Linked DNA regions of Homo sapiens: region 2 is linked to region 1. Evidence: fine-mapped QTL for protein levels in blood plasma. Region 1 holds a variant in brackets. A gene starts in the other region. All regions are shown on one strand. Distances are between the middles of the regions.

Region 1 (8,518 bases):
TTGCTGGAAACTGTGAAATATTTCTACATTAATATCCATCATTTACTTGAGCCAAAAAAGCATTTCAAGAAATTACTCTATGTCTTCCAATTAATTCGATTTAACCACAGTTTACCATCTAAAAACGTTTACCCAAAAGAATGTCTTATCAGTTTCATGTCACAGATAGTAGTCATCAACAAAAGGATATTCCAAACCATTTTTCCATATTGCTTATAATTTAAGCAATAGAGATATTCTATTGCTTATAATTTAAGCAATAGAGATTCTATTCCATTTCTTAAAAAAAATAGCAAGCACTATTACTACATTGAGTGGTTTTTGTAGGGTTTTTAAAGCTGTATATAACTTTTCTAAACTGCTATATTTAATTTTGGGATCCATTATTTAAGTATGTTTGGAGGAATATGCAATGATCATCTAAAAATTTATAAAATAAGGACTAACAGTTTAAAAATTATTAAGTGAAACAATGTAAACTTGTGAGGTGCTAGGGTAGCCTTTTTTTTTTTTTTTTGAGATAGAGCCTTGCTCTGTGGCTCAGGCTGGATTGCAGTGGCATGATTTCAGCTCACTGCAACCTCCACCTCCCAGGCTCAAGCAATTCTCCTGCCCCAGCCTCTTGAGTAGCTGGGACTATAGGTGTGCACCATCACACCCAGCTAATTTTTGTATTTTTAGTAGAGATGGGGTTTCACCATGTTGGCCAGGCTGGTCTGGAACTCCTAACCTCAGGTGATCCACTCACCTTGGCTTCCCAAAGTGCTGGGATTATAGGCGTGAGCCACCATGCCCGGCCTAGGGTAGCTTTTAACATGCATTCCTGTCACACAGAGGTAGGAAAGTTGAACATTATATTTCCCAACCTCCTTTGCAGCTAGGGTTTCAGATATGATTGGTCCAGTCCATCAGATTCACTCACTTGAGACTTTTACTCAGAGCCAAGTAACGTGGGGACAGAGGCAGGAAGAGATGTATCTATTTTTGCTGGCATAAAGCATGGCAGAGGTGGTGTGGCTCTGGAACTGGCAACTGTTCAGCAGGCAGCTTCCTAATCCAGCAGGCAGCTTCTTGATTGTTCTAAAAGCAGCAGCTCTTTCAGCAGCCTACTCTTGTGACATAATTCCTAGAAGCTCAGCCTAGATCTGTTTCTTCAACCCTCCCATTGATTCTGTGACCTATATATACTCATTCATCAATTCCCTTCTGTTTAATAGCTAAAGAAGATTTCATTGCTTACAGCCAAGAATCTTGACCTATACAGAATTTGGCAGCTAGAAGTAAAGCACAGCAAGTCGAAGGCCCTAAATCTGGGGTTGGCTTAGTTGAGGAGGTAGGGCTTTGGGCAGTGAGACTTCTTGCCAACAGAAGTCAAGGTGAGGTTGAGACTTCCTGCCACAGAGACGAAGGTGGTAGAACTTCAGAGTGCTAGCATGTGTTGGCTGCTTCTTGCCTCTTTTCAGCAAAGCCCTACAAGAGATATGTGACTTGGACTAAGATTAACAAGTCTGCAGTGACGCAAGGGAAAAATAGCTTTGCTGAGAGAATTGCTCTTTGTCTACCATATAAATTGACCAAGTCCCAAATCTGGAGCCCTGAAGAATTGAAAACTGTACTCCAAACTGAAACATTTATAAGTAAAGGCTCTGAGGGAGCTACTAAAACTTTCTCAACCTTTTTTAAGAACCTTCCCTTAAGAATTTTCTGCCAAATAATAGGAGCCATCCTAGGGGAAGAGATCAGATTAAGACTGTTGCCATTCCATGCAAGCCTACAGTCTCAAAGGATCTCAAGGAGGTACCATTCCTGTAAGAACAAAGGGGATGGAGAGCACACAGAGGCCAGCAAGTAAATGATGAGGTTCTTTGTTAAAAACAATGTATTTTACCTTGGTTAATACTGTCCATGTAAATGACTGAAGACAACAGACCAGAAACTTACTAAAGTTTTAGGAATCCACTTGGCCAAGAAACAGAACAAAACAACAACAAAAACCCAAACCTGGCCTGCAATAGACTGTAGCTGTTACGGATCTATACTCTAATTCCCAAGCCTGCCCCCAGACTCACAATTATAGGAAGTAAACTGCTAAGGCTGCCCAGCCTCCAAGAAGGGTATACTTTCCAATGCCCATTCAGATTGTGTCTGAAAATTAATGTACAATAAAAACCTCCAAGAAAGTAAAACCAAGGCCCCCTGAGGACATTAGGTAAAGGAATTCCTCTCAGAAAGGTGAATCAGGGGTTGCCTGATAGGCAAACCAAGGAATATATTCATGAACTATAGCAGAGAGATTTAATTATTTTTGCCAAGTGGTACTTTCAAATTGCTATGGATCAGTGGCCACTATATTTCTATTTCTCCCTTTTTCTAAAAGGTCAATTTTAGGGATCTTGGGCATGGTGGCTCACACCAGTGATCCCAGTGCTTTGGGAGGCTGAGGTGAGAAGATTGCTTGAGACCAGGAGTTTAAGACCAGCCTGAGCAACATAGCAATACTCCATCTCTACAAAAAAAAATGTTTAGCCAGGCGTTCGTGGCATGTGCCTGTAGTCCTAGCTACTAGGGGGACTGAGGTGGAAGGATCACTTGAGCCCAGAAGTTCAAGGCTGCAGTAAGCTATGATCACACCACTGTACTCTAGACTGGACAACAGAGTAAGACCCTGTCTCTAAAAAATTTAAAAGGTCAGTTTTCCTGCACCTTTGCATTATGCATCTGGTGCTCTCAGGGCAGAAAACTTGTCTTTCAGTTTGTAGGTGGCCAGAACACAAGGAGCCACACCCTAACATGATGGAGGGGACTGTCTCCAGATAGCATGGTCTTTCATCTAGTATGCAATAATGGGCTGGATTTCTGGTGGTTTCTCTTCAGGGAGAGAGGGGTGAGTGTTTTCTCTCTCGGAAGAAGAAGGTACACAGAATTTAGGTAGCCAACAAGGCTGGCTGAGTTTAAAATCCAAAGTTGCCTACCAAACATTCCCTCTTCCCTTCTTCCTTAGTAAAAGAATCCAACTTTTAGCTGGTCACATTGCCACATTGACTTCTCAGCCTCCCTAGCAGCTAGGTGTGGCCATCAGTGTGACCCAGTTCTGGTCGAAACATAAGTTCAGGTGCTGCTGGTTCTGGAAAATGGCCTCAGGGAAGCTAACTCAAGCAGAGAAAGTCCAGTTTTCTTGCCTTCCCCACTGCCTCCAGGAGCAAACTTGAACAGTGAGAGTGAGGTAATCTGAGGATAAAAATCATGCACTGAGGATAGCAGAGCAGAAAGATAGGAACCTGGACACCACCTACTTCTAGACTTATGTAAGAAGAAAAACTCCTATTTAGTTTAAACCACTGTTATCTTTGTTTTTTCTGTTATATGTAACATAACCTAATCTTAAATGATAAAGTATAGAGCAAAATAAAAAAGAATGAAAAATGACCTGAAGTGGTAGCAAAAGTGATTCAGGTGAAGAATTTCTAGCAGTTGAGGTTGCCAAAACTAGAAAAACGTTACCAGGAAACACAGGGAAATACTGTGGCCTTTCCAGAATTGTTAATATCAAACAGACATTTATTGAAAGAAGGAATGATAAGCACCCATAAAAGAATACCTATGTTTACGAGTAAGTGAGAGCAATCTAATTTAAAAGCAAGAGGCAGAGTTTTCTCACTTAAATAGTTCCTAATAGTTTCACTAAATTATGGCATAAAGCCACTTAATTAAATCATTAAAGGAGAACAAAAAAATAAATAAAAGAGCCGTGTGAATGTGAGAGCAGAGAGCAGACAGTGAGTTTGTTTTCTTCCTGGTTCTGATAAACTTCAATCCTTTAATATCTGTGTCCCAAAAAAAGTGTTTTCATTTAAAAAGTATCTCCCTTTATTTCAAATATGCTTTTAAAATATTTATTGAGCAGAGAAAAAGGAAGGGAGCTAAAAAGATGAAATAGATGTTGAGTTAACAGCTTTCTTCCAAGTTCTGGTGGACTTCAGACTTTAAATGTCTGTTGGAAAAAAGAAAAAAGTTCTTATTTTAAAAGTATCTTCCTTTATTCTAAATGTTCCTTCATATACAAATATACTTGTTTTAAAAAATATGCTTAGCTAATCATAGATCACAATTTTAAAAAACATATTCTCTGGTAAGATTAATATAATTAGAAAGAATTACAAATAAAGTTGAAATAAATCATTTTACCATAAATATGGTTATCAAATTATACAAATGATACAGCACTTAAAATTTGCTGCTACATAAAACTTTTGGAGGCATTTTCATTTTTCTATAATCTAAATTGCTCTAATACCACAAAAAATACACAAAAAATAACATAACATCTTAATGATTTGAAATTATATTTGTAATAAATGTGGATTTCAATTGATAAAATAATTTATTTTCCTAAATAAATAATCAAACAAAATTACACACGTGGCTCAAACTTCAATTCTCCAGCTGGCCCTGATGGAGGAATTCCTTGTTGTAATTTTTTTTGTTCCATCTGCTGTATGACCTGGTGAATGGAAAATGAAAGTTAAAAGTATAACTTGATTTTCTATCATATGTGTGACCTTTGACAAAGCACAACAAAGTAAATGAAAATTGTTTTCTAAAACAAAGATATTCAAACTATAAGATTTAGATTTGACTAGGTGCAGTGGCTCACGCCTATAGTCCCAACAATTTCAGAGGCCCAGGTGGGAAGATCACTTAAGGCCAGGAGTTCGAGACCAGCCTCGGCAACACAATGAGACCTGGTCTCTACAAAAAATATTAACATTAGCCAGGAACACTGGCATGCACCTGTAGTCCTAGCTACTGGGGAGGCTGAGGTGGGAGGATCACTTGAGCCCAGGAGTTTGAGGCTGCAGTGAGCTATGATCACAGCACTATACTCCAGCCTGGGAGACAGGCTGTCTCAAAATAAAATAAAATGAAATAAAATAAAATTTAGATTAATATTCCACAAAACAGTTTTAAAGTATTAAAATTTAAAATACTATAGTATAGCTATAGCAGTGTACTATATAGTACAATGAAATATGTTACAAAAACACAGGCTTTTAACAAAGCACCTAAAATCTTTTTAATGCCATAATCTTTTGACAAAATGCCACCTGATGATATTCCAGCTTCTGAGCCTCCAGTTGATCATGCTGACGTTGTAGCTCTTCTTTTTGTTTCTGAAGCTCATCTGCCTTCTTCTTAAGTTCATTTTCTTGTAAAGCAATAATATTTTCATATTCTTTTAGTTCTTCCTCTGTGAAGAACTGTTGCT[G/C]ATCTAATGTCTAAAAGAAAAAAAATGAGGAAAGAATAATCTCAAAACTACAACAATAAAGTCTGATTTAGCTTTAAAATTCTATGGTTAGCAAAGTATAAAAGAGTATCTATAGGATTACGCCTTTGGAGGTAAGAAGGAAGGGGAAATAAGTAATATATATTTATGTACTCATTTGAACAAAAGGAAAAACAGGAAGAAAAACTCAAGAGATTCTCTTCTGGGATTGACAACTAAAGGCAAAGAGTGAGAACTGGGTAGAAGAGGCAAAGAGAACGTGGGAAGAGAAATAAAATTTGTCATTCCCCCCAACCCTCACTGAAACATGAAATTTTAACAGCTGTCTGCACACAGAAAAGCACAAGAAGCAAACATCAGGTGAGCACTCACAGTACCTGGTTTCAACTTCATATCACCTGCAAAGACACTGAGAAGGGCAAAAGAGACAGTCTTGAATCACCTATGCCACCTCTCTCCCATTCCCTCGTGGCAGACCTGCAGCACAGAGAGTCTGTGCCCTCTGGGGAGGGAGCATAGCGACTGGGGGACTTTACATTGAACTCAGTGCTGCCCTGTCACAGCAGAGAATAAAGCTGTGCTGGGCTCCACCACTGCCCATGCATAGGAGCATTTGAAGCAGCCCTAGCCAGAGGAGAATCACCCATCCCAGCAATGGGCACTGAATTTCCTGGCAGGCCTCACCATGCGGGCTGAAGTGCTCTGGGGTCCTAGGTAAACTTGAAAGGCAGTCTAGGAAAGGAGGACTGTAATTCCTAGGCAACTCCTAGTGCTAGGCTGGGCTTAGAGCCAGTGAACTAGGGTAGCAGGTGACCAGGGGAGATACCAGCTGGTGAGGCTAAGGGAACGCTTGTGCTACCCCTCCCCCAACCTCAGGCAGTGCAGCTTGTGGCTATGAAAGTGACTCCTTTCTTGAGGAAAGGAGAGGAAAAAGTAAAGAGGGCTTTGTTTTGCATCTTGGATACCAGCTAAGCCATAGTAGGATAGGACACCAGGCAGAGTTGTGAGGACCTGATTCCAGGCCCTAGCTCCCAGGTGACATTTCTAGACATACCCTGCTGGCCCAAAAGGAAACTGCTGCCTTAAGGGAGCAGTCCTGGCAGGCTTCATCACTTGCTAAGTAAAGAGCCCCTGGGCCCTGAATAATCAGCGGCAAGACCCATGGAGTATGCTGTGGGTCTTGGACTGAGACATGCTGGCTTCGGGGTGACCCAGCACATTCCCAGCTGTAGTGGCTATGGCGAGAGACCCCTGTTTGAGGAAAGCAGAGGGAAAGTAAAGGCGATTTTTGTCTTGCACCCTAGGTACCAGCTCAGCCACAATGGGGTAGACCAACAAGCAGTCTTTTGGAGTCCCTGAGTCCAGGCCTTGGCTCTTGGACAGCATTTCTGGACTCGCCTTGGGCCAGAGGGGAGCCCACTTCCCTGAAGGGTAAAGGCCTGGCAGCATTTACCGCAAGGTGACAGAAAAGCCCTTGGGCTTTCAGTAAATATCAGCAGTGGCTGGCAGAACCCCATGTGGACCAGAGATGGTGGTAGTAATGGCCACAGGGAGAGGGTCCTCTGCCTGTGGAAAGAGGAGTGAAGAGCAGGAAGGCTTTTGTATTGTGATTTGAGTGTCAGCTTAGCCACAGTAAAACTGAACATCAGGTAAATTGCTAGGGTTTTTTACTCCATTCCCTGGCTTCTAGACACCATCTCTGGACACACCCAGGATCTGGGGGAACTCGCCACCATGAAGGAAAGGGCCTTGGGCAAGGCCCAGTGCCATGTTGGCTTCAGGCTTGACCCAGCACAGTTCCGTGGTGATGGCCATAAAGGTACTTGCATCACCACACCTCCAGTTCCAGGTGGCTCAGCACAGAGAGAGAGACCATTTGTTTGGAAGAAAGTAAGGGAAAAGAACAAGAGTCTCTGCCTGGTAATCTAGAGAATTCTTCTGGATCTTATCCAAGACCACCAAGGTGGTACTTTTAAGAGTCTGCAAAAATCACAGAATTACTGGACTTTGGGCCCAAGTCCCGTGGAATACCTGGAAAGCTTTCCAAAGAAGGACATGCACAAACAAACCCAGAGTGTGAAGATTACAGTAAGTATCTAACTCTTCAATGCTCTGATACCAACAAACATCTACACACATCACCACCACCCAAGAAAACATGACCTAACCAAATGAATTAAATAAGGCACCAGGTTCCAATCCTGGAGAACCAGAGATATATGACCTTTCAGATACAGAATTCAAAATAGCTGTGTTGAGGAAACTCAAAGAAATTCAAGGTAACACAGAGAAGGAATTCAGAATTCCATCAGATAAATTTAACAAAGAGATCAAAATAATTAGAAAGAATCAAGCAGAAATTCTAGAGTTAAAAAAATGGAACGGACACGCTGAAGAATGCATCGGAGTCTCTTAATAGCAGAACTGATCAAGTATAAGAAAGAATTACTGAGCTTGAAGACAGGCTATTTGAAAATACAGAGGACACAAAGGAGAGAGAATGAAAAACAATGAAAGCATGCTTACAAGATCTAGAAAACAGCCTCAAAACGGCAAATATAGGAGTTTTATTGGCCTTAAAGAGGAGGCAGAGAAAGAGATAAGGGTAGAAAGTTTATTCAAAGGAATAATATCAAAAATATTTCAACATTCAAGTGCAAAAAGGTTATAGAACACCAAGCAGATTTAACTCACGTCAGACTACCTCATGGCATTTAATAATCAAACTACCAAAGGTCAAGTACAAAGAAAGGATCCTGGCGAGGCGTAGTGGCTCACACCTGTAATCTCAGCACTTTGGGAGGCAGAGGTGGGCAGATCACTTGAGACCAGGATTTCAAGACCAGCCTGGCCAACGTGGAAAAACCTCATCTCACCTAAAAATATAAAAATCAGCCAGATGTGATGGCACACACCTGTAATCCCAGCTGCTCGGGAGCCTAAACCACAAGAATCACTTGAACCTGAGAAGCAGAAGTTGCAGTGAGCCAAGATCACGCCACTGCACTCCAGTCTGGGTAACAGAGCAAGACTCTGTCTCAGGTGGCAGATTTTTCAGTGGAAATCTTATAGGCCAAGAGAGACTGATATGAAATATTTGCAGTACTGACAGGAAAAAAAATTTTTTACCCTGGAATAGTATATTCACTGAAAATATCCTTTAAGCATGAAGGAGAAATAAAGACCTTCTCAGATAAACAAAAACTGAGGGATTGCATCAACACCAGACTTGTC
Region 2 (3,467 bases), 47 Mb before region 1:
TGGGATTACAGGCACCTGCCACCATGCGCGGCTAATTTTTGTATTTTTTTTTAGTAGAGATGGGGTTTCACCATGTTGGCCAGGCTGGTCTCAAACGCCTTACCTCAGGTGATCTGCCTGCCTGGGCCTCCCAAAGTGCTGGGATTATAGGTGTGAGCCACTACCCCCGGCCCAAGCATCCTACTTTGTTGCCCCAGATCCAAGGCCTACCCTTGGCTCTACTCTTTTTTTTTTTTTTTTTTTTTTTTTTTTGTGGCAGAGTCTTGCTCTGTCGCCCAGGCTGGAATGCAGTGGCACGATCTTGGCTCACTGCAAGCTACGCCTCCCAGGTTCATGCCATTCTCCTGCCTCAGCCTCCGGAGTAGCTGGGACTACAGGTGCCCGCCACCACGCCCGGCTAATTTTTTGTATTTTTTTAGTAGAGACAGGTTTTTACCATGTTAGCCAGGATGGTCTCGATCTCCTGACCTCATGATCCGCCCGCCTCGGCCTCCCAAAGTGCTGGGATTACAGGCGTGAGCTACCACGCCCGGCCCCTTGGTTCTACTCTTAGGAACCTGGTCCCCAGTTCTGTGGACCACCATACCCAGCACCCCCCAAGCCTGGCCTCTGCGAGCTCAGAAGTTGGGCCTGGCTGGCACCTGCATTCACACTGGCTGTGTTCTTCCAGGGACATCTCCCCCAGCTGACTGCTCGGGTACCGGATCATGAGGATCTGTGCTCAGGAGAAGAACAGGGGGGACAGTGAGGGAGAGAGAGAAAGGGGATGCTCTAAGACTGAAGGGAGAAAAGCTCACCCAACAGCCGGGAGGCTGGCCACCAGCCCTCCCCCCAACCCTGTCTCCTGTGCATCAGTCTCCAGGCTGCCCCAGCCCCAGAGCCAGCCAGCATCCACCCTGCCCGCTGCCCCACCTGCCCAGTACCTGCATCCCCTGCCCGTTGCCCCACCTGCCCAGTACCTGCATCCGGACTTGGTGCTGCCCAGTGGGCACACACTCCAGGCCATCGTCAGGGCAGCAGCCACCACAGCGCTGCACAGTCACGCAGCTGGGCACCAGCTGTTTGGCCACGGTGCCCATGAGCTCCACAGTCAAGGGCACCACCACCTCCCGGGGCTGGCAGGTAGCGCGAGTATACACATCTATCCATGACACCACTGGGAGCAGACCGGTAGGGGTTAAGTCCTCACTGGTTTTCCTGCAGCTGCTCCCAGCATCTGTCCTCCCCAGTCCCCAAGTCACAGCCACCCTCCACTAGCCCTCCCCACTCTGCCCTCACAACCTGTCTTCCCCTGCCCTGTTTATCCAGATCCCAGTAACCCCACTGCCTCAATTTCCTCCTCTGTGAAATGGGTAGAATAATAGTTTGAATCTTCTAGGGGAGTTACACAAGATGATGGACACCTGGAATCAGGGCCCATGACAAACCCTCTTAGTGCTGGCTAGTGCCGAGTTTTTGTAAGTATTACCTTTCCTCTGGTGGCCAGGGGCATCAGGCTGGGAGACAGGGGCCTGTGGGAGAGAAAAGACCTGTACCCAAGGTACACTTTAGGAGGGTGTGGCCCTGTCACCGTCCCTGGGGCTTTGCCCTTGCATCAGTAGGCTTCACCACCTCTCTGACATCTTTCCAGATTGCTCTGTTCCTGCGGCCACTGCTCTAGCTTTACCTGTCCTCTCCTGGCCACCCGGGACCTGCCCTGGCCCAAAACGCAACAGGTGCTCTGGTGGCCGCGCCAAATCTCCAGGCCGCGGAGCCGAGCATGTTTGGGGGCTGCATGCAGATCAGGAGCGCGCACAGTGCCCACCGAAGCAGGTCCTGCAGGCACCGAGGGAGCCCCGCCCCCGGCGGTGCCCAGGGGACGGGGTGGGGCGGAGGAGTGGCCCCAGACTGGGGCTGGCGGGCCAGCGGGGAGGGGCACCTCCCAGGGGATGCACGCGCCGGGCCCCCGAGACGCCCGCGTCCAAGGCCGGACCCCGCAGATCCCCTCGGCCGAGGCCGCGGGTCGCCTCCTCACTTCCGCCAACCTTGAGAGAGGGCACGGCGGGCGGGCGGGCGCGCTGTCGGGCCGCACGTACCTGGGCGGGGGCCAGCTGCAGGAGTGCGGCGAGCAGCAGGCGGCGGAGCAGAGGGCTCATGGTGCCCGCCGGGGCCGCCCGCCGGGGGCGCCCGCATCGCCCTAGCCCGGCGGCGCGGGGGGCGGCGACAGCCAGAGCCCCATGGCGCGGGCCCGGGCGCGGCGGGCGGGGGCCGGGCGCGGGGGGCGACTCCTCCGCGGCCCCCTCCCGAGCCCTGGGTGCAGGCAGCGCAGCGCAGCGCAGCGGAGGCGGCCGGAGGAGCCGGGCGGGCGGGCGGCCGGTGGCGGCGGGCAGCGGCGGCGGGGACGGCGGGGGCGGCGGGGGGCTGGGCCCGGGCTGGCGGGCAGGCGGCTCATGTGACCCAGACACGCGCTCCCCACCGGCCCGTGGGGCGGGGGCGGGGCGGCGGGGTGGGGGGGCGAGGCCGTCGGCGGGGCCCGCCTCCTCCACACACCCCCTCCCGCCTCCCGCCGCGGCAGGGGAAAGGGGACGCACCGCCCAGGAGGCTGGGCTCCCCAGTCGCCGCCGCCACTACCCGGAGGGCGGGGCGCTGCCCCTTGGCGAGGCCGGGGCCGGGGGCGTCGGGCCTTAAGGAGGGAGCCGGACACGAGCTCTGCGAATCACTTTATTGCGCGCGTTTCGGGGAGCGGGCCGTCCAGGGAAGGAAGCAAAGCGGGAACGCACTGCAGGCCCCATCCAGGTGAGCCCCTCAGGGGCCGGCGCCCCGGGGCACGATCTCGGGGCCTTGGGTTGGCTCGGATGGTGGCGGCTGCCGCTGCCCTAGCCGTTGTCGCTCCTGCTGAAGGATGCCTCTGTTGGCCCTGGAGGAGAGGGCACCTGGGTGGTTGGGATAGGGATCCCGAAGTGTGGTTCCTGGACAGGGAGCAGGGAGCAGAATAGAGCAGGGACAGACCTGGCCCGTGCCCGGGCTTCGTTGTAGAAGGCTGTGATGATCCGATCCTTTTCATCCATGAAGTTAAGGTGCATCTGCTTCACCTTCCTGCAATGGGTCACAATTAACCCTGGGAATCCAATTCCTGCTGTCCCTGAAGTCCTGCCCCCTTCCACCCCACTCTAGGGGCCTCACAGCTTTTTACCCTTACACAGGGTTAGGAACCTCAGTCTAACCCTTCCTGTGATAGATAGGGAGGGCTCAGAGTGGCCCTGGCTTGTCTAGGGTCCAATGGCATCCGAAGTCCCTGGTCACTTTGAGGTGTGACAGCAGCTGTGGACATGGGGGTGCTCCTCCCAGAAGACTAGAAAGGGTATGCGTCTAACTCCATCACTGAACTAGGCAGGCTGCTAGCAGTGGGCACTGGCCTTTAGGTATCTGCTATAGAAAATCGGCTTTGTGGCCAGGCGCGGTAGCTCTCACCTGTAATCCCAGTACTT

Direction of the effects. Alleles are on the strand shown, and positions count from the first base shown. The strength of an association depends on the size of the effect and on how common the allele is.
With allele C in place of G in region 1, the plasma level of the protein whose gene starts at base 2,385 in region 2 is lower (weak association).

What was found. A credible set is the group of variants that fine-mapping cannot tell apart. PIP is the posterior inclusion probability: the model's chance that the variant is causal. Protein levels are from antibody-based Olink assays in UK Biobank. Linkage for the fine-mapping came from a reference panel and not from the study's own genotypes, which makes the PIPs less certain.
Region 2: VEGFB starts here. The variant in region 1 is the best candidate, but not a certain one, in a credible set for the plasma level of the VEGFB protein (UK Biobank, PIP 0.81).

Annotation. Positions count from the first base shown.
Region 1 is chr11:17,326,885-17,335,402 of GRCh38, reverse strand. It overlaps NUCB2 (nucleobindin 2), which reads right to left. Exons shown (of 14, transcript NM_005013.4): 12 at 5,106-5,276; 13 at 4,420-4,501; 14 at 3,192-3,991. The coding sequence ends at 3,984. Among named protein-coding and RNA genes, the nearest start is that of NCR3LG1, 21 kb to the left of the region's middle. The variant G/C (reference allele first, on the strand shown) is at 5,267.
Region 2 is chr11:64,233,502-64,236,968 of GRCh38, reverse strand. VEGFB (vascular endothelial growth factor B) reads right to left here and starts at 2,385. Exons shown (of 7, transcript NM_003377.5): 1 at 2,076-2,385; 2 at 1,469-1,511; 3 at 960-1,156; 4 at 642-715. The coding sequence starts at 2,135. DNAJC4 (DnaJ heat shock protein family (Hsp40) member C4) reads right to left here. Exons shown (of 6, transcript NM_005528.4): 5 at 2,989-3,075; 6 at 2,688-2,896. The coding sequence ends at 2,785. RefSeq lists silencers at 1,758-2,127, 2,348-2,837.